Linked DNA regions of Homo sapiens: region 2 is linked to region 1. The links come from fine-mapping of genetic effects on gene expression. Tissue or cell type: tibial nerve. Region 1 holds a variant in brackets; the other region holds the start of a gene. All regions are shown on one strand. Distances are from middle to middle. Region 1 overlaps IL2RA (interleukin 2 receptor subunit alpha). Region 2 holds the start of IL2RA (interleukin 2 receptor subunit alpha).

Evidence for each region. PIP is the estimated chance that this variant, and not a neighbour inherited with it, causes the effect. A credible set is the group of variants that fine-mapping cannot tell apart.
Region 2: it holds the start of IL2RA, and the variant in region 1 is the best candidate, but not a certain one, in a credible set for the expression of IL2RA in tibial nerve (GTEx, PIP 0.63).

What each region holds. Positions count from the first base shown.
Region 1 is chr10:6,039,427-6,041,926 of GRCh38, reverse strand. All of the region lies in intron 1 of IL2RA (interleukin 2 receptor subunit alpha), which reads left to right. Among named protein-coding and RNA genes, the nearest start is that of IL2RA-AS1, 5.3 kb to the right of the region's middle. The variant G/A (reference allele first, on the strand shown) is at 1,332.
Region 2 is chr10:6,060,946-6,063,979 of GRCh38, reverse strand. It overlaps IL2RA (interleukin 2 receptor subunit alpha), which reads left to right and starts at 1,613. Exons shown (of 8, transcript NM_000417.3): 1 at 1,613-1,892. The coding sequence starts at 1,829. RefSeq lists a cis regulatory region at 1,230-1,860 and an enhancer at 1,853-1,902.

The DNA of each region.
Region 1 (2,500 bases):
GGCTACCTTATCAACAATATGTATTGTTGAGTGTTTACAGGGTCAAGATTATTATAACTTCCACAGTGATATTTATCTGTGAAAATACTTTTTTGGTCTAGTTTCTCCTGTTACTAAAGCTATCGAGCTTTCTTTTGGTTGCTAAATATCTGCATATAATGTGTTTTCCAGCCCTTTAGTTCAACCTTCACATGTCACTGTATTTTAAAGACGTCTCTTGACATAACAAAAATAGACCTTGTGCAGGACTTTGGGGGAAATTTTTCCCCCTCAATCAGAATACCTCTGTCTTTTACAAGCAAGCTTAATTGATTTATATTTATTGTACTACATTTGGACTTATTTATGCTATTTTACTTTGAACTTTTATTAACCATTATTTTTCTTTTACTGTTGTATTTATCTTTTCTTGTCTTCTGTTAAATTGATTGAGTTTCCTTTATTTTCTCTTTTCCTTCTACTGGTTTGTGTATTATATGTTTTAATTCTACTTTTAGAATTAAGTCACCATTGGCCGGGCGCAGTGGCTCCCCCCTGTAATCCCAGCATTTTGGGAGGCCGAGGCGGGTGGATCACGAGGTCAGGAGATTGAGACCATCCTGGCTAACACAGTGAAACCCCGTCTCTACTAAAAATACAAAAAAATTAGCTGGGCGTGATCGTGGGCGCCTGCAGTCCCAGCTACTCGGGAGACTGAGGCAGAATGGCCTGAACCCGAGAGGCGGAGCTTGCAGTGAGCCAAGATTGCACCACTGCACTCCAGCCTGGGAGACAAAGCGAGACTCCGTCTCAAAAAAAAAAAAAAAAAAAGAATTAACTCACCCTTTAAGTTCTCAAAGTACTCGTGATGTTAAAAGTCCACAGTTAATTAACATCTCTCCCAGTTCCAGGATCTTCTGTTCAGAACTTAGCACATTTCTGGCAACTAAGGATTGACAACTGTTAAAAAATATCATTTCCCATTATATTTTTGGATTGGTTGTTGCTGATATATAAAAAATGTTGAATTTTATAAATGAATTTTCTATCTGGCCACCTTATGAAACTCTTAATAGTTCTAATACTTTAACCGTCTTGGGTTTTCTAAGTACTTAATTAAATTCCTCACATAGAATGATTATTTTTATCTTCTCTTTTTCCAACAATTGTATGCCTTATCTATGTTACCAGTTTTATCAGATCACTAATAACGAGGGTTCTTTTAAAGTCAATTGGAGTGAGAAAAACCCAAAGATGCCATTAAGTCCTTGAGTGTCTTTGGGGAAGAAAAGGTAGGTTTAGGAAAAGAGAGACAAAAGGCAAAGTGAACAACTAAGACAATACCATGTATT[G/A]CAAATTTAGGTGTGATTTAATGATGGCTAAGAAAAAATTCTAAATTATATATAAAAGTGTATTCGTATATAAGGTAGTTTAAATAAATAACAGGTAATGTGGGCAGGCAACAACCATCAAAAATGACTGGAAATATTCAAATTCAACCATGGTGATTTGGTTGGCAGCAATCAGAGAATTGACTATGCTTCAGTAGATTGAAATCCGTTATAATCTATTAATGTGAATACAGGTGACAGGAAACAACCGAATACAGCATTCTCATAAATAGTTCTTAGAATATGAATTCAAAAGAAACTCTATTTCCTCGTTGTGACACAATCAAGCTTTAAGCAATGAACGCTTTAATTATTGTTTTTCAGCTTAGAAAGTAACTATATATTTTATCATTGGGTTCTAAAAACAACACCGCTCAAGAGGTCATTGTAGCAACAATCAAAATTTGTGGAGCATTTTACAGATTTCAATGTCACTTATGTTATTTCAACTGATCCTCATATTTCCATCCTTCATACCCTCACGATTCATGCTTCAGCAAAACATTCTACCTGTAGTCTCTTGTATCTTCCATATGATGATGCTGTTTTACACTTTTACACATTCTCTGCCAGAATGGCCTGACGTGCCTAACCTTCCAGTTGAACTCCCACCCACCTTTCAGGCACCTTATAGTTAAGAGCAGCCTTCATTCTGTTGCCTGGCTCATGGGCAGGGGCAGGATTCCCAGCAAGGGGTACTATGTCAAGAGGCCTAAAAGGACATATCAGCATGGTAAAAGGAAATGGCTTGGGGTGTATGAGAAGCTCCTATGGTTACATGATTGGGAGGAATTCTTTTCATTTCGTGTTACAGACGGAGCATCTGAAATGAGAAGGGACCACAGTGAGCCAGTGAGTGAAAGAGGAGGAAGATTCTGACACCCAGAGCTTTACCTTCAACATTTCCTTCTGTTTATTCCTTATCTAGACTTCCATTTTCCTACCCCATAGATACCCACTCTTTGCCCCTAACTTGCCTTCAACTCCTCTACTGCCTTGTAAATGTCCCATGTGTGCTTGAAAAAAGAGTGGGCTCTGCTATTGTTGGAATCAAATTTGTTAATTGTGGTTATCACATTTGATTGTTCTTACTGATTTTCTGTCTGTCCTATCCATCATAAAGGAAGACA
Region 2 (3,034 bases), 22 kb before region 1:
TCCTAGCTACTCAGGAGGCTGACGCAGGAGAATCACTTGAACCTGGGAGGCAGAGGTTGCAGTGAGCCAAGATTGTGCCATTGCGCTCCAAAAAAAAAAAAAAAAAGACATTAACATAAATTTAAATATTTTATAATGACAATCCACATTAACTACTTAAAGCATAAGCTATTTTCCAGGAGAGGCAGCAAGTGCATTCTACTCCCATGCCCAAGAAGAAAGGAGCGTGACTTTGGTGGGAGTACTAGGAGTTTCTACTGGAGCACTTGCCCGCAGAGTGAGAAACGTTCCTAGAGAGGAAGTTATACCTGCTGTGGAATTTAAGAGAATCTTGTCATATTTTGACAAGTTTTTTGAGATGGAAGTCTCACTCTGTCGCCCAGGCTGGAGTGCAGTGGCGCAATCTCAGCTCACTGCAGCCTGCACCTCCTCGGTTCCAGCTATTCTCTTGTCTCAGCCTCCTGAGTAACTGGGATTACAGGCGCCCGCCACTACGCCTGGCTAATTTTTGTATTTTTAGTAGAAATGGGGTTTTACCATGTTGGCCAGACTGGTCTCAAACTCCCGACCTCAGGTGATCTGCCTGCCTCAGCCTCCCAAAGTGCTGGAATTACAGGCGTGTGCCACTGCGCCTGGCTAATTTTTTTTTTTTTTTTTTTTTTTTTTTTTTTTTAGTAGAGACGGTGGTTTCACCATGTCATCCAGGCTGGTCTCAAACTCCTGACCTCAGGTGATCCACCCACCTTGGTCTACCAAAGTGCTCGGATTACAGGCATGAGCCACCAGGCCCAGTCAACGTGATGTGTTTTGGAACCCTGAATTCCTTGGCTTGCCCGGAGGGTTTTCTTTTTGTTAATATCTTTGCTTGCTTTCTAGTATTTAAAAAATTGTGTTTTGCTCTAACTATGCAATGGCTTTAAGTCTTAGACAAATTTCCAGGGAGCAAAACACACTCAACCATTTCATAATAATCAGAAGAGAGCTCTGATCAATAAATAAGCAAGACTGAATTTTACAAAATAATCCAAAGTTTAAAACCAAAGCCCACTTTTTGCATGATCCTTTAAGAGAAAGAAATCTGGAAGCAAAACACCTTATAAAATGACAATGCACTTTCAGGAGCCCAGGGCACTGTGGTGAAATGATGATGGCTAGTACAGGTTATAAGCCTTGGGGAATTATTTATGAATTCTCAGGATCCTTCAGTTCGCCGCATCCTTCTCCATTATTTGAATATTGGAGGCTGCCTGACCAGAATCTTGTCAGGACTTTGCTCCTTCATCCCAGGTGGTCCCGGCTGACTCCTGAGGACGTTACAGCCCTGAGGGGAGGACTCAGCTTATGAAGTGCTGGGTGAGACCACTGCCAAGAAGTGCTTGCTCACCCTACCTTCAACGGCAGGGGAATCTCCCTCTCCTTTTATGGGCGTAGCTGAAGAAAGGATTCATAAATGAAGTTCAATCCTTCTCATCAACCCCAGCCCACACCTCCAGCAATTGAACTTGAAAAAAAAAACCTGGTTTGAAAAATTACCGCAAACTATATTGTCATCAAAAAAAAAAAAAAAAAAAAACACTTCCTATATTTGAGATGAGAGAAGAGAGTGCTAGGCAGTTTCCTGGCTGAACACGCCAGCCCAATACTTAAAGAGAGCAACTCCTGACTCCGATAGAGACTGGATGGACCCACAAGGGTGACAGCCCAGGCGGACCGATCTTCCCATCCCACATCCTCCGGCGCGATGCCAAAAAGAGGCTGACGGCAACTGGGCCTTCTGCAGAGAAAGACCTCCGCTTCACTGCCCCGGCTGGTCCCAAGGGTCAGGAAGATGGATTCATACCTGCTGATGTGGGGACTGCTCACGTTCATCATGGTGCCTGGCTGCCAGGCAGGTAAGGGCCTGTGGGTGCCCCCGGAATTCCGGGAAGGCTGATGGGCATCCCTCTTCCCAGCCACAGAACCAGAGGGAGTCCCCAGGTAGATGGTTCCAAGAAGGGAGTTGAATCTTGGGTTCCACCTCTTGCCTGTGACCCACGGGGACCCCAGTTTATGCCTCACTGTTCCTTGGTCTGTCAAGAGAGCCTGAAATAGCATTAGGTTCTCCTGTCCTTCTCAGTCCTTGACAATTAATTCTGGGAAGAATAGTGTGGCATGATATTTGGGATATTTGGATGTTAACAGGGTCCCGATGAGCAGGTTTCTCAAGAAATTATCTTTTATTCTTCAATGAATTTCCTTTTATTCTCTGCACTCCCACCCCCCAACTAAGAAGCTATCAGGAAGCTCTTTAAGTTCAGGTTAATTTGCTGGAGACATGAGTACTCATATATCAAACACTGGGAGAATTTAAGATCTCAGAAAAGTTTAGCTTCAAGGATGTATACACTGCTTTTACGTCTTAGGAAATAACACCTAGGAATTTCCTTACAAGTGCAACTTTACAGAAATTTTTAAAAATATGCATACTCACTTTTAGAACATTACTACTTCTCATAATCCTATGTATATACATGATATGTATATGTATACGTGTTTATATATGCAAATTTTAAATTTCATTCCTTGTTTCAAATGGATTTTCTCGAAGATTTTTTTTTTTTGACACTGTCTCTGTCAGCCAGACTGGAGTGCAGTGGCGCGATATTGGCTTACTGCAACCTTCGCCTCCCAGGCTTAGCGATCCTCCCACCTCAGCCTCCTGAGTAGCTGGGACTACAGGCATACGCCACCACACCTGGTTAATTTATTTTTTTGTAGAGATGGGGTTTTTGCCATGTTGCCCAAGCTGGTCTTGAACTCCTGGGCTCAAGTGATCCACTCACCCTGGCCTCCCATACTGCTGGTACTACAGGCATGAACCACCGTGCCTGGCCAATATTTTTTTTTAAAGAAATAAAAAACCACCAACTTCTACCTCAAACCACTCTTCCTAATTGAGTGTGAATTTTCTAATAATGTCTTCCCTTTGCTTACTCAGGAAGACAGATAAGAAAGTTTATAGTGTTTTTTGAAAGTCTATAATGGCAACAAGTAG